Regions from separate parts of the Homo sapiens genome. Here regions 1 and 2 are each linked to region 3. Evidence: fine-mapped expression QTL. A gene starts in region 3. Each other region holds a variant in brackets. All regions are shown on one strand. Distances are from middle to middle.

Evidence for each region. PIP is the estimated chance that this variant, and not a neighbour inherited with it, causes the effect. A credible set is the group of variants that fine-mapping cannot tell apart.
Region 1: its variant is the best candidate, but not a certain one, in a credible set for the expression of INTS6 in whole blood (TOPMed, PIP 0.87).
Region 2: its variant is the best candidate, but not a certain one, in a credible set for the expression of INTS6 in whole blood (TOPMed, PIP 0.81).

What each region holds. Positions count from the first base shown.
Region 1 is chr13:51,495,695-51,505,787 of GRCh38, forward strand. It overlaps the pseudogene SNRPGP11. Among named protein-coding and RNA genes, the nearest start is that of INTS6-AS1, 47 kb to the left of the region's middle. RefSeq lists an enhancer at 6,806-6,955. The variant A/G (reference allele first, on the strand shown) is at 5,152.
Region 2 is chr13:51,897,645-51,907,737 of GRCh38, forward strand. It overlaps a transcript of TMEM272 not described here. Among named protein-coding and RNA genes, the nearest start is that of CCDC70, 41 kb to the left of the region's middle. The variant C/A (reference allele first, on the strand shown) is at 5,294.
Region 3 is chr13:51,447,745-51,457,837 of GRCh38, forward strand. INTS6 (integrator complex subunit 6) reads right to left here and starts at 5,292. Exons shown (of 18, transcript NM_012141.3): 1 at 4,671-5,292; 2 at 4,234-4,311; 3 at 3,281-3,430. The coding sequence starts at 4,781. It overlaps INTS6-AS1 (INTS6 antisense RNA 1), which reads left to right and starts at 5,601. Exons shown (of 2, transcript NR_103812.1): 1 at 5,601-5,674; 2 at 6,259-6,972. RefSeq lists silencers at 3,828-3,877, 3,938-4,097, 4,168-4,307, 4,318-4,437, 4,448-4,717 and 3 more and an enhancer at 5,278-5,327.

The DNA.
Region 1 (10,093 bases), 48 kb after region 3:
CTCAAGAACCCTAAGCAACAGCCTGAAGTGGTCACCCAGCCTTGCTTAAATCCCTCCAGTGACAGCAGATTAAATTCTTCCTAAGGCAATCTGACCCATTTCTGAAGATTGCTAGAATCTCCCTGAATTTTACATTCATACTTCCCTTTTCAGTCCCCAAGTTAGGATGCCTTACTGTCATTCTTTTGTTTTGTTTTTTGACTGTTACAAAAGTTTATTTACAAAAAGTTTAATATGAAAATACACATGACCCAATATTTACATCATAGCAAAACAGGCCCTTTGGAGAGGGGACATAAATGTCTCTCCTGAACACAGCCATTATATATCCTTGTTCCAAGATTTCTAACAAGATGACACCATTTCCTTATATCACCACCTTTCCAGTATTGCTCTGTTGCCCACCAGCTGCCATCTCCACACATTCATCCATTACAAGATTCATTAAGGGATCGAATCCCCTACAATATTCCTTGGACATGTCTGCCACCACTTAATTTCAGTGATAACGTCTTGCCCATAAATAATTTCAACATGGAAAGGTAAGCTTTGCTCATGGTGTCTACTCCATGGACTCACAGAGGTCTTGAAACAGAATTCCCCTTACTGTCATTCTATCACATATACTCCTAGTCTATCAACTGTTGCTGCAGGAAGTCACAAAAAAAGTATTGATTGGATCATTCCATATCTGAGTTACCCACTATTGCTTGCCAATACTTGTAAATTCATATTTTTTTCTGCTTCTCAAATTCCCCGTAACAGCTGAACCAAAACTTTATATATTCTTAAACCCCATCCCCATTCCCACATTCCCAAAAGATGATCTCACCTCTCAGTTTTTTATGTTTGTTTAGAAGATTAAGACTATCTTTTTGTATTTGTCTTTTCCATCTCTACAATTGCCTATTTTCACCATTTAAGATGATACTTATGATGACCCTCTATTGTTAAGAAATGTTCCATATTTTTCCAACTCTTAACAAATTCACTTATGTCCATCACAGTCTTTCATGCCTTGTATGGAACATTTTTCCAAAATTTGCCTATACTTTATTACATATTTACTCTTTTTCATTGCCCAAAATCCTACTTGGTTCTCCTGTATTTTAAAAACAAAATGAAAAAATTTTTTTCAGCCCTGACAACCACTCAATCTACTATTCTCTCTCCCTATTTTTTACACAACATATTTCTAGGAGAAAAGATCCATTAATCTCTATTAGCTTCCTTGAGTTTCTCACTTCATGGTACACTGTCGTCTCCACCTCTGGCATGGTATTGACTTTCTGCTGTACTACAATAGACTTTTCTCAGCCTCACCTTCTGTGACCTCTTCCCAGAATGTTACGTGCCTCCCCTTGATGTGATTTCTGCTTTCTCCGTCCTTTCTAGCCTTTGATATGCATTCCTGCTACAGCACCTAACCCCTTCTAAAGGGTGTTACAGTATCTGCTGCTTGTCTGATCTGTCCCATTAGACAGGAGGCCATGTATAGCAGTGACTTACACAGAGAAGGCAATCTGTACATATTTGATGAACAACATTCAACATTTTAGAAATTTATAAGATTTTAAGTAACAACGAAGCCACATAGTAAAAATATGTCTGGGTACCCAGCCTGCCTTTTTCCAATTTTCCCTCTCCTTGCTCCTCCTCACTTTCTTCTTCACATTAAAAATAGCTTTTATAGCTGATAAAATTTATGTGAGAAACGAAGCTGAAGCCCAGCTTAACCTCCCTCAACTTTCTCTTTTTCTTTCTGAGGTAGAATACATTTATTATTCATTAAATCATATTTGTGGGCATGTGTGTGTGTGTGTGTATACACATGTGATACATTCTTATAAAGGATTCTCACCAAACAAACTAAAACATAAAGCCTCCTGCCACTGACAGTTTGACAGGTATGTTTTAAGTTATTTCTTCTATGCAATTAGTACCTTCAAAAAAAAATGCAAGCCAAGATTTGCTATAAATAATCCTGATCAGGATAATCAAACACTGTAGTCATGCAACTTCCTATTTTTCCTTCAGTTTGATTTATATCTGCCATGTTCTTTAGATACAGCTACTACTGTTTATTGCTGTTAATTCCTTGACACCAAATCTTTCTGAAGGGTGTGTATCATTTTCCATTTTTCCCAAATGTACGTTACAAATCTTTCCTCTAAGTGGGGAAATTTATAGCAAACAAAAAATGTTGCATCTGTTCAAATTGTCAAAGAATTTCTGAAAGAATGGAAGTGAGTAAGTTTAGCTGAGCAACAACACCAAAATGATAAATTCTGGGGAAAAATAATGACTTGGGAAAATGCAGATTACAATATATGGACAAAGTCTCAAAATGAGCTCTGTGACATGAATGCAGTATATAATTCGTTTTCAATCATAAATGGTTCATTTGCATAAGCACTTATTAAGTATCCAGCACTGTTCTAAGCACATTGCATGGATGATGGGATTCAATCTTCACTCCATCACTAAGAGGCAGATACTGTCATTATTCACATTTTATCGATGAGAAAACTGTGCCCAAGTCACACTATTTGTAAGTAGTAGATCAAGTATTCAAACTCAGATCTGTCTAACTTGAAAGCTCACTATTTCATTTCTTCAACAAATATTAATTGAACACCTACTCTGAGCCAGACATTGAGAAACAAACAGACAATGGTCACTGTCCACATGGAGTTTACAATCTAACAATGGAGAGAGGCATTAATCAGTTAGTAAAACAAATCATTATTTGGATTAAAATTGTCATACTCACCACAGGCAAAGGAATATTATGTGATCTATTCCAAACCTCTAGACAGTGACTGTTAGAGGTCCAATAAATTCGGATGAATATTGAATAAGATTGCTTTGAAAGTAAAATGTGGTGGACTTAACCCTGTCTTGGTGGAGGCCAGGGAAGGCTTCCTCAGAAGGTGACATTTAAGCTGAGACTTGAAAGATTATTTGAGCCGACAGGAGGTAGGAAAAGCTTGCAGGGAAAGGGTGTTTTAAGCTGTGTGCCTACAGTGCTTGGCAAGGAAGAACCTTGGCAGATAGAAGGATAGAAAGTAGACCAGTAAAGTGGAAGCATAGATGGCAGGTGAGCATGAGTACATAGGGCGGCCCAAGACAAACTGAGGAGGCAAGAAAGCTATGGTCACCCATAGGTACATGAGCCATATAAAGATTCTCATCTTAATTTTAAAAGCAATATGTTGCCAGGAAAGGGTTTTAATAAGAAGAATGTCAGCAACAGATTTCCACTGATCACTGTAGCTAGAGTGCAGTCATTGACGAAATCAGTTACCAGTTGCAGCAGTTCAGACTTGGACAAGGATGCCAGCAGCAGAGAATAAGAGAAGTGAACAGATGAGTCTTGCTTAGGAGTTGAGTGTCTAGATATGAAGGGTAAGACAGAGTGATCAGTCAGGGTGCCTGTATTAGTTTTCTATTGCTGTGTAACAAGTTACTCCAAATGTAGCAACTTCAAACAACATCTATTATCTCACACAGTGTCTTCAAAGGTCAAGAAACTGGGAGCAGCTTACCTAGTTCTGGCTCAGTCTTTCAAGAGGTTGCAGTCAGCCTGTTGGCAGGTGTTGTAGTCATCTAAGTTCGGACTAGGGTTGGAGGAGCTGCTTTCAGTCTCGCTCACATGGTTGTTGCAGACCTTAGTTCCTTACCATGTGGGTCTCTCCATGGGACTGCTTGACACAGAAGCTGGCTTCCCCAAAGTGAGAATTCCAGAGAGACTCTGAGACAGGGAGGTGGTGGTAGGGAATGGGGAGAGAGAGGGGGTGAGGAGATAGAGAGAGAGAGAGAGAGAGAGAATGTGAACAAGAAGGAAGCTGCAGTGATTTTTAGGATCTAATCTCAGAAGTAACGCATCATCACTTCTGCCATATTCTACTGGTCACATTGACCAAGTCTGATACATTATGGGAGAGGACTACACAAGTTCATGAGTACCAGGAAAGATATCACTAGGGGCCACCTTGGAGGCTAGTTACCACCACCATGTGATGGCACTTTCAAATTAGGGTAATTTGTGAAATTTCTCATGCACACGTGAGTGGATGTGTATGAACAGTTTGTTTTCTTACAAAGGGACAATTTACAAAGATATGTGCAGGGATTAGGCAGACCACAAAGGGATCATGCAAGTTCCTAGAGCTCGAAGGAGAAAGAATTGTGGAGTGCAGGGCCACCTTGAGAGGAGTCATGCTGGGAGACACACACACAGCTATGTGCTGGAGCCACCTCATAGGACACATGAGAGCTGACTGCATCTTTTCCCAACTTGTATTCAATGATGTCACACTGGTAGCCTAAAATCGGTCATGGTGGGAATACGGTACCATGGTAATCAGCAAATACTGTAAACCAGAACTTTTTTTTTTTTTTTTGCAGAAAGCCAGTTAAACATTTACTAGCACACCACTAGGCATAGACAGACTGAAGCAACCTCTTAAGGTGGTAGCTAAGAGAACTCACACCCAGACCCTACTCTCTCAAGGCAGAGGGAGGACGAAACTCAACCAGGAAGCCAGAGAACACAGGAGCCACTCTACATGCTCTACACAAACCATCCCCTGGAAAAGATAGCAGGGTACAGACTAGAACCGCATAGTAAGGCTACCTATCATGAATGCACTCCTGCCTGGGTGACAGAATGGCTCTCCAGTGTCTTCTTCAAGCAAGTGTGTCGACAGTGATTCAAGTAACTGAAAGAGAAACCAACAAAGTATCATTTGTCGCAATATCTCAATTATTCTCTTTTAACCATCCTTATCACTCTTGATTTTCCACATCAGTGGGGGGAACTTTGGCAGACAATTGAAAATATCACGTTTTCCGGTCAGGTCAGTGAATGAGTTTTGCTTTGTTTTGGTTTTTATAAACAATGGAAACTGACCCTGGCTAAGTTAAGAGAGAAGAGAAAGATGTGGGACAGCTCCCAGAATGAAAAAACAACCTGAAGAGTGAGACTCAGAAAGAGCAGCCCTGGGGTAGAAAGTGGTTGATGATCTCTTCAGAGCATCATTGTTGAAATCCTGGTCCTTTTTTTTTTTTTTTTTTTTTTTTTTTTTACACAGTCCTTGACTTACCCTGCTCAAGATACACTAGTCTAGAATAAAATTTGATTGGCCA[A/G]CTCTCTTGGCAAGAAGCAAGTTTCCTTAACTAGCAGTCCCACTGGGACTGCCACAGTGAGGAGCCATTAGTTCCCAACAAGCAACTCACAGTGCTCTTAGAAAGAGGAACAGGAGCTGGGAAGCCAAGGAGCAGCAAACGTCCTCAACAATCTGGGACACGACCTTGCTCCAAGGTCCCTCCTAAGTTGCAGGTGGAGGGGAGCAACATTCAGACCAGTAAACTGGAAGTAATTGAGAATTAGTTGTTCTTTTAAAATCTTCAGGCATAATGTCAATAATTCAGAATGCCATAGAATCTGACATTAGAAGAGTTAATGTTTAAAAATCAAAGGTATTAACTAAACATTGGAACTAAAATAAATAGGAAACTGGAAGAAAAGCTGAAATGTGCTCCTGTATAAAAGGAAAATCAAAGCCACTGTTGTGCCATATCTGATGACCACATAAGTATGTAAGCATTGTGAGTTTGTATGAGACTTTCTGGTACACATTGGTTGTAAATATGAGGTCAGAGAAAATTCTTGGCTTCGGCAGGACACAGTGGCTCAAGCCTAGGAGGCCAAGGTGGGCGGATCACATGAGGTCAGGAGTTCGAGACCAGCCCAGCCAACATGGTGAAACCCCGTCTCTACTAAAAAAACAAAAATTAGCCAGGCATGGTGGTGCATGCCTGTAATCCCAGCTACTCAGGAGGCTGAGGTATGAGAATCGCTTGAACCCGGGAGGCGGAGGTTGCAGTGAGTCGAGATTGCACCACTGCACTCCAGCCTGGGTGACAGAGTGAGGCTCTGAGAAAGAAGGAAAGGAAGGAAGGAAAGGAAGGAAGGAAGGAAGGAAGGAAGGAAGGAAGGAAGGAAGGAAGGAAGGAAGGAAGGAAGGAAGGAAATTCTTGGCCTTTAGGGCTGTGGGTCCCCCTGGTCTGCATTGTTCTGCTCTCTCCACTCCTCCAAGCCCTGCTGTCCTTCAAGACTCAGCCCACATGTTTTCCCTCTGAGTCTTCCTGGACCAAATCCAGCCCAATCCATGATTAGTGTTTGTCATCTATGCCTTGTACTTGGCACTTTTCAAATGTCCCCTTAGCTTGTTACACACATCTTAGGTATGAGTCCTGATCTTCATTTAAGGTTCAAGAATATTGGAGGCAGGATCTCTGTCTGACAATGATAAGTTGGCTGTTGGAGGTTTACTACAACTTTATAAAAACTTGATCTTTCTTTCTTTTTCTAGTTCCTCTTCTTCCTAACCTCAAAAATATGAACCTTCACAAACGCTTGCCCTTCTTCTCTCTTTTTTCTACCTCACAATGTTATGTGTTAAAGATTGATTAATGAGAGTATACATATGAAAGCCCAGGAAGGACTTAGGTGCAGATGTTTTAATTTTGTATGATGCCCTTCCCACTACAAGGTCCCCCAAGCACATGCACATCCCTGTAATGCTTACTAATATTGATAGTATTTGCCTCATGCTACATGTACTTTCTCAATGATCTCATCTACTTGGGTAGTTTCACTGTGATCTTTTAGGGGACAACTCCCCTTCTGCCTCCAGCTGACTCATCTCCCAGCCCCAGGCCTGTATTTCTGATCAGTTGTTCTGTATCCATCTCAGACTCAGCACATCCTGAATTGAACTTATCCTTCCATACAAGCCTAGTCCTTTTCTTCATGGAAGCACTGGATCTCAAGTCATAACTGTGCTAGATGTGAGTCATACTTGAAGTCTCAGAAACATTTCAGCTCCAGAATCCCCCTCTCACCCTCCCCTACCCAATATTGGTTGCCAAATCCTGGTTGAGCCTCCCAGTCTTCCTAACGTTCTATTTTTTCTGTATTCCCATGTCCGACCTTCATTAAATTTCAACTCCGCTCCCCCACAACCATAGATCCAAGCTTTTAGGCCTCCTGGTGTTACATGTCAACAAGCTATCCACAATTTGTAGCACCAACCAAGCTTTCTGGCCTCATCTCTTCTGTAATCCTCAAATCCAGTACCATCTCCTTATTTCACATTCCCAGAATACACCCTCCACCATCACACAATTAACTTGGCTGAAGCAATTTCCTTTGTCTTGAGTGGTCTTGCCACAAGGATCTTTATAATCCTGCATCCTCCAAGACACCTTAGAAATTTTACCAACTAAAATTAATTATTCCTTCTAATAGTAATAACTGCCCCTTATAGAGAACTGAATATGTGCCAGGGCCTTGACATACATCATCACATTTAATCCAGACCACAACCCAGCGAGTTAGTTATTATAGGTCCACAATCCCTTATCTAAAGCCATGAGGCCAGTTGTGCTTTCAAATTTAAAATGCCTTGTTTTTCAGAAGGGTAATACACTGGTATGTATCTCGGTTTCCCCACCTGTAAAATGGAGGATAAATACAAGCACAGTACGTCCCTTATGGGATTGTCGTGAAACAGGCAAGGTGTCCCTTCTAGAAGACCCAAGTGAAATTCCCATTCAAATGCATTTTTTGGGGTCTATTTGTTTGACCGTGATTTTGGCTTTTGAATAATGTGTTACTGGGGAAATGAATGGTTCTAACTTTACAGTTTCCTAGATGTAGCAGGAAGGTGATTTGAGCCTTCAGTTTCATTGCATGTTGTGTTTCTTTTTTTTTTTTTTTTTTTTGCAACTGTTACTTCTTTCTGCTACTTAGCCTAACCCCCCCCACCCTCCCTCCCCCCCTCCCCCCCCTCCCCACCATACTCAGCGTTTTCTATCAAAAGCCCAGGCCTCCTGCCACTGCAGTTAGAACCCTTTCTTCACTTTTCTGGCCTATTTTATTATTAATTCCTAACTTTCTCTGGCAAAAGAAAAATTATCTAGACAATGATTCGCTTCTTTGACAAAACCACTTCATGACAATTATACTAAGTTTTAGGAATTCAATGTAAGCATCACGAATACATTTTTTCCTTTTATATCACCATGGGTCTGGATGCAGAAGAGACCAAGAATTTAGCACTGGAAGAGACCTTGAATCTCAGCTAGCACATATGACCTGGGTTTGTCTAATTATCTATTATATTTGAGGAAATGAAGGAGCAGGAAGGTCTAGTGACCTGCTCAAGCTTGCATGACTAGTTAGCAAGACAACACTGGCTAGATCCTAGCTGATTTCACCCTGCATCTGCTTTCTGTCACTATTGATTAGTTTGTTTTTCCCAAAATTTCAAATAGAATCATACGGTGTGTGTTTTTTGTATCTGGCTTCTTTCACTCAGCATAATGTTTTCGAGATTCATCCACATGGTTGCATATATTGGAAGAATATGCTTTTTTATTGTTGAGTAATTTTTTTTGTAAAGACGTACCACAATTTATTTAGCCGTTCTTCTACTGATGGACATTCAGGTTATTTCCAGGTTTTGGCTATTATAAATAAAGCTGCTATGAACATTCTTGTATTAATATATGGTGTTTTGTGAACATATATTTTTATTTCCCTTGGGTAAGAAATACTTATGAGTAAGTTTGATGGGCCATAGGGTGGGCGCACATTTTGTTTTATAAGAAATTGGTGGTTGCTTTACATCCTCACCCACAGATGGGGTTGCCAGTTTTTTAAATTTTAGTTTTTCTAATGGACACGAAGTTATATCTTATTGTGATTTGGATTTACATTTTCTTGATGATTAAGTTGCATTTCCCTGATGGATTTTCATGCACTTACCAGCCATTCCCCGTACCTTCCTTTGTGAGGTGTTGGTTCAAATCTTTTGCCTATTTAATTGGGTTGTTTTTCTTCTTAATAGTGAGTGGTAAAAGTTTGTTTTATATTCTCAATAAAGTCCTTTGTCAAATATATGTGTTATAAATATATTTTTCCAGTCTGTGGTTTGCATTTTTGTATTTTAAAAGAAGTCATTAGAAGAGCTAATTAAAAACAAAATTTAGGCCAGGTGCAGTGGCTCACACCTGTAATCCCAGCACTTTGGGAGGCCGAGGCAGGCGGATCATGAGGTCAGGAGATCGAGACCATCCTGGCTAACACGGTGAAACCCCGTCTCTACTAAAAATACAAAAAATTAGCTGGGCGTGGTGGCGGGCACCTGTAGTCCCAGCTACTTGGGAGGCTGAGGCAGATGAATGGTGTGAACCTGGGAGGTGGAGCTTGCAGTGAGATGAGATTGCACCACTGCACTCCAGCCTGGGCGACAGAGCAAGACTCTGTAAAAAAAAAGAAAAAAAATTTTAATGAAATCAAATTTGTCATTATTTTCTTGTATGGATTGTGCTTTTAAAATTTCATTTTACTTTATTTTATTATACGTGTTCAGTATTTCTGTCATAGCATGAATCATGCTTTTCTTGTATCTTATCAAAAACATCTTTTTCTTTGCATACTCCACTGCCACAAAGATTTTCTCCCATTTTTTCCAGAAGTTTTATCATTTTAGCTTTCATATTTATGTCTTTAATCCACTTTGAGTAAATTTTTATGTATGGTGTTAGATAGGGTTGAGGTTCATTTTTTTTCATGTAGATTTCTAGTTGCTTTGGTACCATTTTTGAAAAAACTATACTTTCCCATTGAATTATATTTGTACCATTGTTGAATATCAGTTATCATAGGTGTATGTGTTTACTTATGTATTCTATTTTATTATGCTGCTCTACATGCCCATTGTTTGGACAAATCACACTGTCTTGATCACTATAGCTTCTTGAAATCAGGTAGAGTAATTTCTGCAACTGTTTCTTTTGCAAAATTATTTTGACTATTCTTGGTTCTTTTAAAATCCATTTGTCAGTTTTTACAAAAAGTCTGATATACCATAAATATGATATATCACGGCATTTATTTAGACCTTTTTAAAATTCAGCAGTCTTCTATATTTTTCAGTCTATAGGTTTCGTGTATATTTAATTTTCCATAAGTATTTCATTTTTAATGTTACCATAAACAGAATTCTAATTTCATTTT
Region 2 (10,093 bases), 450 kb after region 3:
GGCTGGGCGCAGTGGCTCATGCCTGTAGTCCCAGTACTTTGGGAGGCCGAGGTGGGTATATCACCTGAGGTCAGGAGTTGGAGACCAGCCTGGCCAACATGGTTAAACTCTGTCTCTACTGAAAATACAAAAATTAGCCAGGCATGGTGGTGCGTGCCTGTAATCCCAGCTACTCAGGAGGCTGAGGCAAGAAAATCACTTGAACCCAGGAGGCGGAGGTTGCAGTGAGCCAAGATCATGCCATTGCACTACAGCCTGGGTGACAGGGTGAGACTCCATCTCAAAAAAAAAAAAAAAGGGCTGGGCGCGGTGGCTCACGCCTGTAATTCCAGCACTTTGGGAGGCTGAGGTGGGTGGATCACAAGGTCAAGAGATTGAGACCATCCTGGCCAACATGGTGAAACCCCATCTCTACTAAAAATACAAAAATTAGCCAGGCTTGGTGGCGTGCACCTGTAGTCCCAGTTACTGGCTGAGGCAGGAGAATCGCTTGAACCTGGGAGGCAGAGGCTGCAGTAAGCAGAGACTGTGGCACTACACTCCAGTCTGGTAACAGAGCGAGACTCCATCTCAAAAATAAATAAATAAATAAATAAAATAAAATAAAAAGATAATTAGAACAAAAGTGCAGTGCCCCTGCTCATAAACATGCAGAAATACAAGAAACTCCTGGGGATTTTTCTCCTGACACACTCCTGGTTAAGAAGCACTAATGCAGGATATTGTTCTATATCTACATGCTTTTCAGTTTTCAAAGAACTAATTGAGAAATGAGCTCCTTATAATAGAGAGGATGGCTGCCTCATGGATGGAGAAATGGGCAACTGACTTATGGTGTGATGGCAGCTACCACTACATAAATATCATGCATTTTCTGAATGTTTTACAAAACAAACATCAGATTCACATTTGCAAAAGTAGGAGTAATGTAAGGGTTAAACTAAACAATATATGCAAAATGTTGGCACATACTAGATAATAAATGTTAGTTCTCTCTCCTCTTCTGCCCTTTGCCTACTTCACAGCCTATCCTGGCTGCACAAAGCCAACAAGAATGGCTTAGACTTATATCTTTTTCCTGCTAAGACGGCACTGTTGGAAGGAGTCCTTTGGGTCCTTTAAATGTGTTCCAGGAGAGGCACCCAGCATGCTAAAAAGGTAATAAAAATGACTGTGCCACCGGCAACCTGTTATCTAGGATTTCCTGATCTACCACTCACTTGATTCTACCTTGTACCTGCCTGTCATTCCTCCTCACTTTCTCTGCCTCAATCCCTGCTCCAATCTCACAGTACTAAACCTGTTCTCATCCACTGCTGATCACTGCTGGCCTTGTCAAGGCCACCTTCTAGAGACTGTCTAGACTGCATGTCTTACTCCCACAGCTCTTACTTATTAATTCATTTAGTAAGAATAATGGTAAGTAAATGAAACTATCTCTATTCACAGATGATATGATCTCTTATCTGGAAAATCCACAAAACACGCTTTCAGAACCAATGAACAAGTACAGTAAAGTTGCAGGATATGAGGTCAATATATAAAAAATCGATTGTATTTCTATATACTAGCGATGAATAATCTGAAGATGAAATCAAGGAAACAATTTACAATAGCATCTAGAAGAAAAAATACTTGAGATAAACAACATAGGTGCAAGGCTTCATAATCACACTGTATCCCATAAATATATACAGTTATTATGTGTCAATTAAAAACAGTAATAAAAGCCAGAAAAGGGTATAGCGACTGAAAGGTTTTTCCAGTGTACTTCTAATCAGCAACATTTGGCACTTGCAAAGAAAATGCAAGTCTTATACACTAAAAATTGTAAGATATCATGAAAGAAATTAAAGAAGGCCTAAATAAGTGGAAAGACATGCCATGTTCATGAATCAGAAGACTTAAGTATTAAGACGGCAATATTTCCCAAATTGATGAACAGATTCAACACTATCCTCTCAAAAATGTCATCTGGCTTCTATGTAGAAATTGACAAACTGACCCTAAAGTTAATATAAAAATGCAAGGGATCCAGAATAGCCGAAACAATCTTACAACAAAACTGGGGGACTCAAGTTTCTCTATTTCAGATCTTAATGCAAAGCTATAGTAATTAAGACCGCATGGCACTAGAAAAGGCTAGACATGTAGCTTAATGGAATAGAACTACATTTTTATTAAATTATGAATAGAAATAAATCTTTACTTTTATGGACAATTGATTTAGACAAGCCTAGGCAATCATATGGGAGATGAACAGTCTTTTCAATAAGTGGTGCTGGGACAACTGGATATTCACCTATAAAAGAATGAAGTTGGACTCCTATTACAAACCACATACAAAAATTAACTCAATATGGGTCATAGTCTTACATGCAAGAGTTAAAACTATGGAACTCTTAGGAGAAAACCTGGGAATAAATCTTTATACCTTGAATTAGGCAATGGTTTCTTAGACACTGAAATCACAGGCAAAAAAAGAAAAAAAATGTAAATCGGACTTCTTCAAAATAAAAATCTTTTGTGGTTTAAAGCACATAATCAAGAAAGTGAAAAGACAGCCACAAAATGGGAGAAGATACTTGCAAGTCACAGATCTGATAAGGGACTGGAGTCCAGAATAAATTAACTCTTACAAATCAACAAAAAAAGGACAACCCAATTTAAAAATAAGCAAATGAGTTAAATAGACATTTCTCCAAAGAGGATATACAAATGACCATGGAAAGATGCTCAACACTAATCATCAAGGAAATACAAATCAAAACCACAATGACATACCACTTCATATGCACTGAAATAAAAAAGACAGACAATAACAGTGTTGGTGAAGATGTGGAGAAATTGGAACTCTCATGCATCATTGATGGGATCAGAAAAAAGATGCAGCCCATGTGTCAGTTCTTCAATGTTAATGTAAAGATACAGTTACCATAATAGCCTAGCAATTCCACTCCCAGGTGTCTCTCCAAGAGAAATGAAATATAAGTCCACACAAAGACTTGTATGCAAATGTTCATGTCAGCATTATTCATAGTAGCCAAAAAAAAATGGAAACAACCCAAGTATCCATCAACGAATGAGTGGACAAACAAAATGTGATATATCCATAAAATGGATTATTATCCAGCAATAAAAATGAATGATGTATTACTGATACATGCTACAACACAGGTGAACTTTTAAATCATTATGCTAAGTATAAGAAGCCAGACACAAAAAGCCACACGTTTTATGGTTCCATTTATAGGAAATGCTCAGAATAGACAATTCTGTAGAGACAAAAAGTAGATACAAGGTTGCCAGGAAAGAGAAAGGCATGACTCCTAATGAGTACAGAGTTTTGTGGGAGAGAAGGGTGGTGAAAATGTTCTAAAATGTTAAAGTGGTGATGGTTGCACAATTCTATGAATATACCAAAAACCACTGAATTATAAACTTTAGAGGGGTGACATCTATGACGTGAATTATATCTCAATAAAACTTTTCTTTTTTTTTCAAGTGAGGCCCAGCCTTCTCATATTTGTGATGTTAATGTCCACACAACCTCATCTGTACTCACAAAATTGTGAAGGAAGAGAACCTGGGTCCACACACACTTTAATGAAGCACGGTTCCTGAGTGTGGCTGCATCTGGTCCAGCTAGAAAGTTGTGCCTGGCATTTGACCTGCTAAAAAGCCAAGTTCCACATGGTCTAGAGTTCAATGCAGAAATATCCCTGGTACATATAAAGAAACCACTCCTGCTAGAGGGGTGGCGCCCGGTGGAGCTGCCTGTGCCCCACCCGCCCTCCCATGCCTCACACCCCTCTCAGTTGTCAGTTGCCCCTGGAACAGGTACTTCTGGAAATTCATATAGCCAAGGAAAGTCAAAAATGAAGAAGAATCCAACAAAAACACAGAAATACATCAGTTGACTTGGGTCAATGGCATTACTAACTACCCCCGGAGAAGCCTGGACACATCTTCAGTGTCTCTATTTTCCTTTCTGCCCTCCCCCAGTGCCCACTCCATCCCAAGTCCCTTTACAAAGCTCTGTGACAGTGGCTCTCCTAAGTATCTAGAATCTACCTGCTCTCCTAAGGCTCACTGCCTCCCCGAGTTCAGGCTTTATCAGCCTCCTCCCACAAACACGTAGCCTCCTCCCTGCTTTCCCTACCTCCAGCCCAGCCTAGCTACAATCCTCTGGGCAGAAGCCCCATTGGGTGTGTTTACATTCCAAATTTGTGCAGAAAATCCACATAGCTTCATTGGGTTACCCAGTCCAGAGCAAAAACGCCAGGCCTTTCTCACTCTGTCATCCAAGCTCAAAATCCAAGAGAGGAGAGTTTCAAGGAGGAGGAGCTTGGGAAGTTATCCACTGGGGTCAAGCTCCATGGAAAGGTCATGTAATAAAAAAACTGAAAAGAATCACTTGGGATGTGGTATCAGGGGGGTTACTGCAGACCTCTGGAGAAGCCATTTCAGGGGTGAGGTCAGAAGCCAACGTGCATTGGATGAAAGAATAAATATAGGTGGATTCTCAGTTTTGTAAGATGTAAAAATCAAGAGAAGCAAAATGAAAAAAAGCACTGATGTTGAAGACAGTTTCCCAGTTGCCTTGTTACATTTTCAGTGTGGGACTGAAGGGGTGGTAGGCATTACTTCAACAGAATCACAACACATTTTGCCCTTCTCACGGCCTGGCGCCTGGAAAAGCTTTGGGAATTATTAGCTGCTGCTATTGATGTTGAGGGCACCCACATGCCTTTAGAACCAGAATCTAAAATGTTCAGCCTCTCAATGTCTAAAATGAACTGCTGCAATGTTGCAGATTTAAAAATTAGAGGAAAGTTATTTTATTAAATACATTTTAGAATATAGGTTTTATAGAAAGTATGTTATCATAGCTACTCTAGAAGCTGAACTTGGGAGAGTCCCATGGTTAGAGGGACTGAGCATTCTGCCAACAACCAGCCCCACCTTGCCAGCCAGGCCAGTGAGCCACCCCAGAAGCAAGGCCACCTGCCTCAGTCAAGCCTGCAGGTCACTTGCAGCCCTGATGGACAGTCTGTGGGCAACCTCCTGAGAAACCCAAACGGGAACCATTCTGCTAAGCTGCTCCCAAATCTCTGACACACACAGACTGTGAAATAACAAATATTCATTGTCCGTTTAAGGCACTAAGTTTTGGAGTAATTTATTTTGAGAAACAGATAACTAACACAGCCCTGACAGCAATTGGTTATTGGCTATGTGATGCCGAGGGAGTGGATAACTTCCTAGCATGGTGGCTTCTGCTCTGCAAGGG[C/A]AATTCTTCAGGAAGCAGGTGGCTGCGGTGAGCAATACTCAAAGCTGGGAGATGAGTGCATCCGCCTGGTAAAGGGGCCCTGGGCAAGGCACCAATAGCATCCACTGGGGGTGTTGATTATAATCTAGTACCTAAATATAGTTTTGGTTTTGACAGGTCAGTTTGTACACAAACACAATTGTGGAAATATTTTGCATTTCTTTTGAAGGTCTCACCTCCTTAGTGTGTGTATCCAGGAGGTACACAACTAGAACTGGATGCACGAGGCAGCAGCAGTGGGAAGCAGCAAGGTGATCTAGAGACACTTTATTTATTACTCACTAAGTCCCAAAAAGTGCTTGCAAATATAGAAAGTGCAGGTAGAGATGATCAATAATAACTAACTATAGTGTCTTCCCTTCATTGCCATTGAGGTCTTGGTTTCCAATAAGACACTTCATAACTCATTCCTAAGCATGCTGTTGGAAATGGGAGGGAGGGAGAGGTGGCACACCAACGAGGTCAGGGAGGGAAGAGAGACTCTACGTCAGATGACGATGTCTCAGTTGTCACTTCAGGTTCTGGCTGCTCTCTCCACTGTACAAGGAAAGCCACCAAATAGAGGGCAAACTGCTCCCCCTACTCTCCCCAGAACACCCCTTTTTCCTATCCCTAGGTGTAAGTGCAGGAGACCCTGAGCATCTAATGGAGTCAGATGCTAAGTTAAACACCCAGAAGTCCCGGTTTCTATGGGGCCAGAGGAAAAGGCAGAGTGCTATTTCCAGACTTCAGTGGCAACCGAAAAATGAAAAAGACTCGTGTGGGTGTGGGGCAAAGGCTGCCCCAGAATGCCCAAACTTTAGCTTCAATAAACCTATCATAGCCATAATGAGGCAGTGCTGGGGCAGAAAAGAGAACCATATAGGGTCTTCTGCTCTGGCAGAATCATACCTGGTTGTGCAACCAAAGTGTCTTCTCACACCTGCCTCCTATGACACCATTTGGGTTTCTCCAACAGTCTTCCACGTGTGTGTGTGTGTGTGTGTGTGTGTGTGTTTAGAAAGAAGCATCTGGTCACCAGAAACTCAAAGGCCAATAACTCTTAACAAAAATACATTCACACTGGACAAGTGAACACTCAATCTAACACACAGCACCTGTGGCCCTGGGATGCTAGGCATGAGGTGGTTTTCTGCAGTGCTGCTTCTCATTCACCATCAGCATCAGAATCAGCATGAGCTTAATGACTGCTTGTTGCCTGCTTTGCAGTGATGATGACAATGATGGTAATATTAATGATGATGATGATGATGATGTTAATGAGCCCATGGACCAGATTTAGTGCTGCTGCCTATTTTGAAATTAAGAAATACATGATGACAGAAACTGAATTCAGGTAGCACTGGGCTAAAGGCAGATGACTGATGACTGCTTGGTGGCTAGCTTATATGCAATTCTTATGATGACCCTAAGGTAATTGTTGTTGATGATGATGATAATGATAATTGATGATCATGATCATGATGAGTCAGATCTGGGAAAACATCACCTGGCCTTCAGCAGCTAATGCATAGTAGTAATGAATAATTTTCTCTGGGCTTGAATAGGAATTCATGGTATGGACGTGGAAAAGAAGGAGGCTCTAGATCAAAAGAGAAAAGATAAGCATGGTCCGTTTTCAAGATATTGTGAAAAGTACAGGTTGAGCAATCCAAAAATCTGAAATGCTCAAAATTCTGCAACTTTTTGAGTATCAATATGATGCTCAAAGGTCATGCTCAAAGGAAATGCTCATTGGAGCATTTTAGATTTTAGATTTTCAGTTTGGGAATGCTCAACCAGCAAATATAATGCAAATATTCCAAAATCCTAAATCTAAAACACTTCTGGCTCCAAGCATTTCAATTAAGAAACATTCATTCTGTACTGATGTGGAGGCTGAAAACCTTGAATTTTATTTACCAGGTAGGGGAACATCATCATTAGTAGTGTTTCTTAACCTCATTAGTACTGACATTTTGGAATAGATAATTGCTGTGGGAGTCTGTTCTGTGTGCTGTGGGGTGTTTAACAGCATCCCTGCCCTCCAACCACTTGACGCCAGTAGCACACCTCCAGTAGTTACTGTGTAAAATATCTGTGGACATTACCAAATGCTCCTGGGGGAGGTCAAAAGCACCCTCGTTGAGAAGCATTGAGCTAAGAGAAACAGCAGACAACACGAAGCAGTCAACAGAGAACGGCCCTAAGCAGGAGAAGAAATGTCAGGCTGAAGGCAGTTCGTGCAGGGAGAGAGACTGTCCTCCCTCTTCCAGAGAAAAGAGCTGTCACGACACTGGACGAGGGCCCAGAGGCAGGACTTCAGAGCAACAACCTCAGAGAGCCATGATTCCAGAGCAGTCTCAGTGCCTGCTGTCACCACCTCGGACACGGCAGGTCCCACTCACCTCGGCTAGAGCTGCACCTGACTCACCCAGTCAGGGAGATGCCACTGTCTTCCTGAGGCCCTCTCATTTGGAGAGCACCTTCTTCAGAGCAACCCAAGGGAAGCCGGAGTTCCTCTTCAGCAGGGCTTTGAGATGCTTTCTAGCATGCCAGGTCCCTCCCTTCACAAAGGAAACACCCAGAGAGCAGGGAGGCAAGGGGCAAGCCCTCCCTCGCAGCGGCGCGGTCGACCCAAGCAGGAAGTGGAATCCTGCAGGGAAGCTGCCCAGAGCCCCTCTGCCTGCCACAGGTCCCTGTAAAAATGGTAGAATAAGTGCTAGGAAATGCAAATTGTAATCAAGGGCCATGCGACACTTAAAAAACTACACCTTGGTTTCCAAAGAAACAGAATGCTATTATGAGAGGCTCTGCCTCATTAGCCTCGGTTAATGTCAGCGTGTGTCTGAGGACAATGCCCCATGGTTCTATGATGGAGAGCAACTCAGCTGTGATGCCGCCTTCTCTTCTTCAATCGGATTGAGAATGAAGGCTTCACCTGTGGCTCTGAAGCAGACAGGTAGGAGTCTCACTGAGACACCTAGACGCAGAACAAATGACTCACCAGGATGAAGCTCCACCACTGCACAGCAGAGGAACGTGCACTGTACCCAGTGATGACTTGGGGCTCGGGCTCTGGGAGCCAGTGTGGCTCCTTACAGGCTGTGTGTTCTGGAGGGACTGAAATCTTCTCCTAGCAAATGGTGGACCAGGCTGGGGTCCCTGGAGCAAAGAGCAGCATGCAGGGCTGGGCTGTACCTGGGCATGTCAGTACCCCCTGCAAAGGTTAACTTAGCCCGCTAAGGGGACTCCCTGAGGCATCTAATTCAAAGGGTGAAATAATCTATTGAGTGCAGCCACACAGAATGAGCAGTTATGGGGGAGAGAAGGGATTCACTGAAACAGGGCAGGCTTTGTAGGGCTCCCATAGCTCCACCCTTGGGCCCAGGGCAACTCCTAGGGCCCCAAGCCAATTTTGAGCCCCCAGCAAGACAGGGAGCCCCTAGAGCTTCAGTATTCTCATATGAAAAACTAGGATAATGAGGCCTAACCACAGGTGACTGTGAGAACAAGGAAGAACATATGAGAAAGTGCTTCATGGGCCCTAAAGTGGGGAGTAAATGTTGGTTGTTATTGGCCTAATTGCATATGCTTTACAAATGGTACTTTCATTGTAATAAAGCATCTGCATTTCTACAGGAGAAGTTCTAGAGTTATTTTAACTCCTGATAAGAAAATAATATGTCCATGAGAGACCCTGACCCTGAGGCATTCAAACAGTTTGCAAACAGGCCTGGGCTCCCTGCCAGCACAGGCAGGCACTCCCCGGGATCCCAGGCCCTAGGGCAGTTTCAGAGACAGCAACCCAAAGCCATGCCAACTCTCCTCTAGAAGTACAAACAGTCCCTGCAGGCTCCTGGACAAACATCCAACTGACCCTTGATGCTGGGGACCAACAGTGAAAGGGAAGCTATACCCTGACTCCACATTAGCAAAGACGAATGAGCTGGAACTCACTTCTTTCTGCTCTTCCTATGTGATCTGGTCTGTTCAGAAACGCCTTTGCAGTGCTCTGAAGCCACATCTTCTGTAGCAGGTTGTTTGCAAAAACAACTGCAATGACCCTCCCCTCCCACATGGTTAATGTTCCTCTCCTCCCAACGTGAGCAGGGATCTGGGGTGCATCTGTGACTTGCTTTGACCCATGGGATGCAGCAGAAGTGATGTTGCATAACTTCCAAGCTGAGGCTTTACGTGGCCTTGTGGCTTCTGCTGTCTTGAACGGCCTTTGACATCCCCTAAGGGAGCTCACTCTAGAGCCCTTCATGAGAGGCCACATGAAGACAGAGGCTCTGATACCATATTAACCATGTCTTTTTATGTATTCTGACACTTCAACATCTAGGGCCTTGCTGACCTTGGCAGGTCTGTCCCTCCCAGGGTTAGCCAATTCCTAGAGACAGTAAACAACTTGCCCTTGAGCGTGCTTTTCACACACAAACTAACCAGTCGAGAGCTCATGCCCCCAGCTGCCTACTTCATCAGCCTTCCACAGGACTCACACACTCTAGGCCACTATTCCTCTGCCCTAAGCACCCCAAGGCCAGGTACCAGACAACTAGGGACAGCCCCTATACCCAGAGCCTGCTGAAACTACTCAAACTATAATAGCTAACCTTAACCCTGCTCACCTTGCCTCACTCATTCCTTCCCATGGAAACCACCGTAAAGGCTCTTGCCCATGTTTTTCCATCACTCCTATCTTCTCGCTGACCATACTGCCTCCCTATTCGGTGCTGCATGGCATAGTACTTTCCCTTCTGTTGGGATCTGTGAGTA
Region 3 (10,093 bases):
AAAAAAAAAAAAAGACAATGTTGAAAATATCGGGCCGGGTGCTGTGGCTCACGCCTGTAATCCTAGCACTTTGGGAGGCCAAGGTGGGCAGATCACCTGAGTTCAGGAGTTCGAGACCAGCCTGACCAACATAGAGAAACCCAGTCTCTACTAAAAATACAAAATTAACCAGGCATGGTGGCTCAAGCCTGTAATCCCAGCTGCTCAGGAGGCTGAAGCATGAGAATGGCTTGAACCCAGGAGGAGGAGGCTGCGGTGAGCCGAGATCGCGCCACTGCACTCCAGCCTCGGCAACAAGAGAGAAACTCTGTCTCAAAAAAAATATACATATATATTGATGGAAAACAGGATGACCTGTAACAATAAGAAAATTAACTCATCTACATATAAAACTTTAATCAGACCTCTCACATTTTATACATTTCCTAATTTTAGATATTAAGGCTGCTTCAGACTTTCAGCAGGTCTCAAAGGATCAGCATTATTTGAAACTCTGTTGAACACACGTGAAAAACTTATGTATCAAATTTATCTGCAATGATATGCAACTTAAAGTACTGCTATAAAGGAAAAGATTGACTAAAGGCTATACATTGCTCCATTACTGTAGAAATATCAGTAAATGGTACTGATTATCAAAATTAAATATTTATAACAATGTCTGTAGGCATGGAATTTTTTAGTGGGATACCCAAAGTGCTTGAGGAAAACATTCACTAAGAACCATTCTTTTTTCTCAGTTACTTAACCTTACTAATGCCCTGCAAATTCTGATAGCATCCTAGCTAATAATTCAAAGATGTTTTATCTGTAGGTATGTTAACTAAGTTAACAAATGCAATATAGATTTAATAGTCTTGTAATTAGTTATGAAAAATCATATATGTGCATATATGTGGGAGAATGGTGGATATCTACATAAATATACAAATATATATATTAACCCAGACATTTAAGAAAGTAATTCAGAACATTAAAGTTTTTAGATGTTCTATAAAATATATACGTTCTATCTTCCACCTAATCTTTTCTCATTTCCTTCAACTACTAACGTTACATACAAGTATTTAGTACTGTGAACACCACAGATCCTAGTATAGAGCAGGAAAGGGGAAATACTTATGTAAAGACATTGAAGTTACAAAATAAAAGTATTCCACAGCAAACAGGCAGATACAAAGTACTTTTACAAAGAAGAAAACACATGAACAATATTCAGTATTAAATATTTGAGACATCCAAAATTCCTAATCATTTATCCTTGTTGTGAATAGAAAACATGAAATGTTTAAATCAGATAGTTTTATGATGAAAAAAATCTTCTGGAAGAATGTTTTCTTCCAATTCAATACTCTTTACTCAAATTATCATTTTCATTTGAAAACAGTGGCTTATTTTAATGCTAGTGTCATTTTTAATGTGCCAATTCAAGACATAAGCATTAATATTATGCTTTGCAATCTTTGCTGATTCATCAGAATAAGTGAGAAGCATCATCCCTCTCTGTTATTGAATTAATAAATCCTGACATGCAAAAACATCCCAATCTCCAGGTTCTTCTCTTGGTCAAAGTGGTAACAGCACAGGACCACCTTTCCCGCAAACTTTTGGTAAGCCTTATAGACAAGAACTAAAGTGTTCTCTGGGGGCAGATATCAACTGGGAAAAGGAAAATACAGGTTTAAATTACAAATGTCCTCAGCCTCTCCATGACAAGCAGTTTTTCGAAGGAAGCAATCTTTAAGAAGTATTTTTAATAGGTAATAGGAGGTGAATATGTCCAAATGCCTTGACCACTTATGAAATGTGATGCAGAAAAAGAGGAAACTAATAGTTCTGCCATACACTAACAACATGACAACCAAATAAAGGTAACCAAATAATGGCAAGTTTTAAATATCTCTTTGAACTCAAAGAGGTAAGGATGAAAACCTTAAGCAGTAAGACTGTGTTGCACTACATATCACAAAGGAATATAAAAGAGAAGGAAATCCACTACTATTTTACAGAAACAAACCAAAAAGTTCATTGCAAATCTACCTAAATTATTAAAAGTTGCAAAATAAAAGCAGCAGAGATGGGAAAAACATAAAAGTATTAATGTGGTAAGAAAGTACATATTTACCTAACTAAACGTTGGAAGTTCAATTTGGTAAGCTCACTCTGAATTTCAGTGTACATTTTAAATGTTATAGAACTAAATTCAGTTATTTCCAAAGACACTTAAGCACTGAAGTTATCCCTAAGAAGCTTAAAATTTCCTAAAACAGAAACAAGTCAATTTCCTTCAATAGGAAGCAAATAAAAGTTGTAGTCACAGAAAGAATTTCCCTGAAATGTACGAAACTCACAAAACTAGGGACTGTGGGACTTGGGAAAATACAACATATACCCAATATATAATTAGGAATAGTGCTTTTCACTACAACATAAGAACTGAGCTCCTTGGAAATAATATTCCTTTGTTACATGTAACATTATACATTGTTCAGTATCTTTTATTTCCAGGGCAATAATATCATAAAATGTTACAATAGACCACCTTGCATTATTCCTTAGTGAATTATTGTTGATTTAAAGCTCCTCTCATCCTCAAATACATGAAAGTAAGTGCAATAAAAGGACTTGTGGGGGTTAAGAAACGAAGGGTTCTTTCATATTTTCCAGCAGTCTTTTTTTCCAAGGGTTTGGAGTTTAAATCAAAACTCTGGGCCTGAAATTTAATTCAGAGTTCTTCCTGCAATAGTTGTTAACTGTGTATGCTTCAAAAGAAAACTTAAATGTTCTCAGCCAGTGACTGTACTCCAGTGAAAAACTTCTTACCTTTCAGAATAGTTATACAACATGGTCACATTAAACCCTGATGCAACAAACAGATTAATTTCCTCTAACATCTTTACTAATATAGAAACGAAGAACACGAACTAGTGTCTCTAAGCCACTATAATAGTTGCACATACAACATGAGTGTGGTGTGGTAGGATGCTTTTCCTTTTAGGTCTTTACTGAACTTTCAAGGGATTAAAACCAATGTATGTCAACTTTATAGCAAAAGTTTCAGATTCTAATCCTGAATACCAATGCATTTTAGAGGGGGAAAAAATGAGGGATGTAAAATATATATAGTAGGGTAAGAGTTTTGCCTTTGAACAATGTGCATATTCTATTTTAATTTGGAATGTTTTATACTTGCATTTCATGTTATGTAGTTTTTGGACTGGACTGTGTTTTTCCACAAAATGAAAAATCAACTATTTTGCCACCTTATTATTCAACCTACCTGCCCATAGTTGTCTATGCCAGTTACTAATCTATTTAAATTTAATAAATCAAAAGCTGTCCTTAGGGATTGGCCAAGAGTCGTAAGTCCTTCAGCCTGAAGGTTTTTCAATTCATTCATAAACGTTGCATGGTTTTCTTTCCATCCAGCCTGAAAAGAAAAATGTAAGATTTTTTTTTTTCATTTTTTAAAGCCATGTACACAGAGCCGTTATAATCTGACGTTCACCAAGTAGCAGCTTCACTTTTGGTTGGTTTGGCTTGGTTAACGTGTTAATACTGTACCGCTGCTGAGGAAACTCTCTTCCAAAGGTGGCCCAGGAATAACCCAGCTTCCTCTCTAGGTTTTGGTAGTTAACTGCCTTAATACTTTATAACTTCACTGACAAATTTACTACCTAATCTAATACCCAAAATTTGGGTATGTGAAGGTACTAGTGGAAGCAGATGGGAGCCGGACTTAGGAAGTTAACCTGCAGCTGTCCCACCGGCCCTCTTAGGACGAATCTGACAAGACCAATCCTGGCAGCCCCGCATCTGGCTTCCGGGCCGGCCGGGCCGATTCCCCTTTAATGCAAACCGGGGCTGTGCGCGGCCGGGCCCGGCTGTCACTCCGGCTAACTTGAATAAATATCCCCCACAGTTCATTGCTGCCGCTCACGCCGCGGAGGGGAAATGTCGGCCATGTTGATAGCAGCGCCGCCGCCGCCGCCGCCGCCGCCGCTGCCGGGCCGGGCCGGGAGGGGACGGCGGTGGCCCCGCGACTCCGCGCCGCGCTAGGACGCTGCCGAGCGGGGGAGGGGGTGGGAGCCCGCAGGGAAGAGACCTCAGCGGCTGGGAGCGCAGCGGGTGGGGGAGGGGAGCATAATGAAGGGTGAATGGGGGGGCGGGGAGGGCGAGCGAGGAAGGAACAGGGAAGGGAAGGGAGGAAAGGGGGAGGGCGAGGGCTGTTACCTTGATAGCATAGGGCGGCTCTTCGAAAGTGACCAGCATATACCTGTCTCCTCTGCTGGCAGGGTCCCGGGCACGGAGCTGCGGGACGGGAGGAGGAACAGGGCGGGCGACAGGGAAGCACAGAGGCGAGGTTACGAGGCGGAGAAGGGGCGCCCAGCGGCCCCGCCGCCCCCACAGTACCGCACACGCAGCGGCCACCCCTCCACGCCGTCCCCCACACACAGATCGCTCCCCACACACCGCCCGGGGCCGGAGCCCGGGCCCCGGCCGAACCCGGCTCGCAGCGCCCGCCCGCCCGCGCGGTGGGGGAGGGGGTCCCCGAGCCCGGCAGCTCCCGCAGTCAGGTCCCCGACACCCCCGCCCCGGCCGCCCTCCCCCACCCTGCCGCCCGCGGGCCGCCGGGCCGGGGTCGCCGCCCGGGCTCGGTCAGTCGGTACCTTCATGAAGGTCTCTACCGCGCCTTTGGCCGTGTCCAGGTAGGTGGTGCCCAGATGGCTGCGCTGGTTCATAGAGGCAGACGTGTCTATCAGGAACAGTAAGATGGGCATAGTGCTGGCCGGGGACACCGGGGCCCGAGGTGGTGGAGAAAGAGGAGATGGTAGAGGTGGAGGCGCCGGTGGCGGCGACCGCCGCTACGCGGGGCGGGGGAGCACGGCCCCCGGGAGGAAAACACTGTCTGGGTCTTTCCTCCGGCTGCGGGGAGTTTCTCCCCCGATAGTTGAGAGGAAACTCCCCAGACCCAGTGCTCCCCGTCGTACCCCCGCCTCCGCCTCCTCCTGCCTGCCTGCCCGCTGGGGCGGGCGCCCAGCCGTCTGTCTGTCGGTTCGTCCCCCCCGCCTCGGGGGTCCCGTCCCCGCTCCCGGCCCCTGTGTGTGTCCCAGCGGGAGACGGGCCTGGCTCCCCACCCCACCCCCGGTACAGGAGTGGGGACCTGGGAGCTGGCGAAGAGGGGAGTGGGCTGAGGGAAGATTGGCCCTGGGGCTGTTGGGAGAAGTTTCAGGGACTCCCTCCGCACCCCGGCGGTGTCACCACTTTCTCAGCCCCTCTCGCTACTGAAGCGCTTTTCTCTCTCACACTCCGGTTTTAACTCGGGCAGGGGCTGCGGAGGCTCCGCCCCTGACACGTCCCCGAGCCACGTGATACACCGCCTCGCCGTTCTACTGGTCAGGCCCTATCCTTTCATTAGCATATTTAAACAGCTCAGGGGCGGGGGAAGCTTGTAGGCCGGCTCCGGGGACAGTTATTGAGCACGCGCAGAGGCGGGGCGTCGGGTGCGCGCGAGCGGGCGGGCGGGCCGACCCGGAGGCGGGCTTCGGGAAGGGGCGGGGCCGGACTGCGGAAGGACCGCGAGGTGGGGGCGGGGGCCGCGTCCGCGCGCGCGGGGCGGCCGCGGCGGTGAGCCTGCGCGTCAGGGCCGCCGGCCTCTCCTTGGCTGTTGGAGGTGATAGGGGTCGAGGGGAGGGAAAAAGGGGCTGGCGTCAGCCGCCCCTGTGAGGTGGCCGTAGCGTGGACGAGTAAGAAGGGTTGAGTAAAGTGGACAAACACCTGGTTAGGAGAAGAGGGCAGGCCCGCAGCCGCCCTCCGGAGGAGGACTCGGGGCCTCGCGGGCGCCGGAGGAGGTTCCTGGGCCTCGGAGGGCCGCCCCGGCGCGCCGCCCCGGCGCGAGCGGGCGCGGGCGGGGGAGGGGAAGTGAGAGGTTGTTTATGACCGGGGACTAATCTCCTCCGCGAGTCCCAGCGCTCCCTCTGGGGAGTGCGGTTGAGGGGCTGTCCTCGCACGGAGCCTCGCTCGGCCTCGGGGGAGCCACGAGAGGTGGGAGTTGGACCCGCAGCGGGCCAGGAGCCCTGTCATTGGAGGACCCGCCAAAAAGGAAGCAAACCCTCTTTTTCTTTATCCAACCCCAAATAGCTAGGGCCTAGGGGGAAGACTCACATATCGATAAATGGTTTGTTGCCCGTTTTATTCTCTGGGAAATACAACTGATCTTACCAAAGAAATAACCTGTCTCTTGCCGTGTTTACTTAGAGCCATAGAATACCTGTTTCAGAGCTGAAGGGGACCTGAGCCCATGATAATCCATTACCTCGTGAGAAAGCGGAAAAACTGACTTCAGCTTGCCCAGATGGCGCAGAGAATGGGTTTCCCGTAACCCCGCCTGTGTCTTTCCTTCAGCCTCGTCCCAAATGCCGTGGGAGGGAAGGCACTCTCTGTCAAGCTGCTGTCACCTTACCTGAAGTAAGGAGTCCACGCCTGCATGTCCGAGGAAAACAGTTTTCTCAAACACATTAGTTGAAAAACTGAAGACGCTGCCTAAAATACAAGCTGAGTTAGAGACAGCCCTTGTAAGACTAGGTAGGTATTTACAGGGCCTCTCCCACTAGCTTTGTTTTTCCAGAGTTTGTTCTTTATCCGGAAATTCTTAATTTGCCTACTGATCATTTAAAGAAAGGGTTCTATTAACATTGACACAGAAGAGACACTTTGTGGCACTTTTTAAAAATCTGAGTCTCGTGACTTGGTATAACTTCTGAAACTTACTGTTAATTTATAGCAGAGCTATTTGAGTAATATGCTCTTCTATGAGTATGAACAATAGAAGAAGTGTGATTTTTAAAGTGATTTGGACTACAAAATAAGAGCATGGAATATAGGCTTTACAGCCAGTACTTGCTGAGGATGTACTGTGTATTAGGTGTGGTGCATATAAAAAATAAATAAAATGTGGTCCCTGTCTTCAAAGAGCTTATGTTTTCTAGGAAAATGCTACATATTACTAGCTACTCCAAGGCAGAAAGTTGTTAGACACCAAATCAGAAAAAATAAAAATGTATTACCTTGGGGTGATGCAGGAACATTTTCCAAGGTTTCAGCTTTGCCTTAGTGTTTCTTAAACGGATCATAGATCTGAAGATAAGAATCAGAGTTCTATGGCAAAATACGAGTTATTTTACCAGTTATAAAGATGAAATTTGTCTTTCAACTTGATCATTTGCATAATTTTATACAATTGCTCTTTAGTTCTTTATATTTGTGCTTTTCAAACTGGTCTGTGGACCCCAGCCTACTGAAAACATTCTCTAGGATCATAAGAATTTATTTTAGGAGTCTGTTCATTATTCAGTTTTAAGAAACACTGTCTTAAAGGACTGGTAGGATTTGGATATGGGTAAAGGAAGGGGAAGCTGCTAGTGAAAAGATCTTCCCGACATTGAAAATGTGAAGAAAGGAAGTTAAGACAGCATTGCTGAGGGCTTCCTGAGGAACAGTGAAGTTCAGCTAGGTTGGAGCAACAGGTGCATGTAGAATAGTACAAGATCTAGAAACACAGGTGAGATCTAGACAGTAGAGGGCCTTTATTCCAATCTATGGAGGTTTTTTTTCCCCTATAAATTGGAGATTTATTTTTCAATTGCGTTGCTAAGTAGAAGCAATGTTTGAAAGAAATCAAACTAGACTACTGAAGATTAACATGCGTTCACAATGACCTTACCTATTATTACAGTTATTCGAAATCATTTTTCAGTGGAGCCATTGTCACAGGATCCTTGGAGTGTCACTTTTCCAGCTGGAAAAATGGCACCTCTGCCCGAATTTTGGTCGGGCTCATTCTGCCCACCAGTCCCAGCAGGCTGCACTCTGCTCATACTACGGCCTGGATCCCACACCTGCCAAGTGCAAGCCAGGTGCGGAGCAGCGAGGGGTGTGTGAGCGAGCAAGCATGGGGTCCGGCCACTGTATACAGCCCGGCATGCCAGCTGCAGGAGGGCGGGCAGCTCTAGGGGCTGGCCCCTTGCAAGGCTGTGGCTGGTCCAGGTGTACTGCAAGCAGCTTCCACAGCTGGCACCAGGGAATGCAGTGGCACCTGGAAGCTTGGAGATGCCAGGAGCTGCAGAGCCCCAAAGAGGTTGTCACAGGGAGCTCCTAGGTCTAGGCTTCCTAAAGGGCCACAGCTCTTCTCTCCTCTCTTCCCCCTTCTCTTTCCTTTCTTCTTCTCTTCTTCTCTCTTCTCTTGTTGTGTTGCCCACAACATGGCAAGCAAGGGGCATATTTCAGCCCGTTTGTGTTACAGCTCTTTCAGCCATGCCATTTGGCAGGTCCCGAGTTATTGTCCCACATCCAGGAAGAATGAGGTATGTGGACAAGTGGAGGGTGAGCAAGGCAAAGAGGTGCTTTGTTGAGTGACAGAACAGCTCAGAGGAGACCTGAGGGCAATGAGTAGCTTCTTTCTGCAGGCAGGTCATCCCAATAAGTGTCCAGCTCTCAGCAGAGAGGAGACCCACAATGGGTAGTTCCTCTCAGCAGGCAGGTGGTCCTGTCATCTGCTCAGCTCTCCACAGAGGAGACCCACAGTGTCCATAGACCCACAGTGGGTAGCTCCTGTCTGCAAGCAGGTCATCTCATTGTCTGCCCAAGTCTGGTTCACTCCAGGGTTTTTATGGGCTTCTGAGAGGAAGAAGTGTGTGCTGATTGGTCCATGGCGCAGCCATGGGCAGGCCTGGAGAAAGCACCATAAGTTCTCACTCCGTTGCATGGAACTGGCAGCCTGACCCCTGGCGTTACCGGGGACCCACCCCTTTCCGCCCAGGAGCCTGTGTGGATCCTGCTGCCATTAACCTGCCATCCACAGTGCCCATGGCGCCCAGGTTGTTCATGCTAAGTGGTACCTACAGGCCTTCACTGAGATGTCCTTATTCCCGCCTCGGCCTGCCTCCCTCCTGTGCTCATCAGCACCCAAAGTCCAGAGGGGACTGAGGCAGCATGGGGCTTGCGTGTCAATGCTGCCCCAAGCACGTGCACACCTGGTCGGGTCGTGACAGCACCCAGGCTTAGTCACAACTTTGCTCTGAAATCAGAGCGGGTGCTGGGAGCGGGGAGAGGCCAGGCAGTGGGAGCAGGCACTTCCAAGCCTGCGGGAGCAGGGAGCTTCCTGGTCCCCTGAGAGTGGGTCTTCTCTCTGTGGAGAGCTGAGAAGATGACGGGATGACTTGCCTGCTGAGAGGAACTACCCACTGTGGGTCTCCTCTCTGCTAAGAGCTGGACACTTATTGGGATGACTTGCCTGCAGAAAGAAGCTACCCATTGCCCTCAGGTCTCCTCTGAGCTGTTCTGTCGCTCAGCAAAGCACCTCTTTGCCTTGCTTACCCTCCACTTGTCCGGAGATGAATGGGTCCACAACCATGACTGGGTGGCTGCAGCTGCACTCAGGAGGGCAGGACTCCCACTCTTCCAACTTGGAAGCGGGCAGGGCTTCTGCCTGTTCCCAGCTCTTGCTGGCTCCATAGAGCACCGCCGCGGCTGTAGCCGTGCCTCCCCGATTATAGCCAGCGTCAGGGCAGCAGCCACTTCAGACGGGCTGCTGCCATCATCACCATCATGGCTCGCTCTTCCCTGACTCGATGGTGTTAGCAGGTTGTCATACTAGGGTCATAAGTGAAAGTATGTAGTAGAGATAGGGTTAGATGCAAAGGTAAGGAAAACCAAGTCCAGTGAGCCAGCCATAATCAGAACCTATGCTTATGATGATGACTTCTGAGATCAGAGATTACATGTCCAGTTCAGAAGTCCAGACATAGTGGAAGGTGAGGCGATGAGGCAGACCAGGAAAGAAATGAGGACATACATAGGCGGTAGTCAGAAACTAGGAAGCATTGACAAGCAGTCCCTAGACAAAGTTGTGAAATAAGCCAAGTTTATTATTAGTGACTCTGGTTGACAGTTTAGCTATTGGTGGATGATAGCCTAAAGCAGTGGTTATTAGCCAAGAAATGCACATCGGCATCTCCCATAAGGCTTAAAAAAATAATGTGCCAAGTGCCCATCCCCAGAGGAAAGGAATTCAGTAGATTTGAGATAGGCCTTG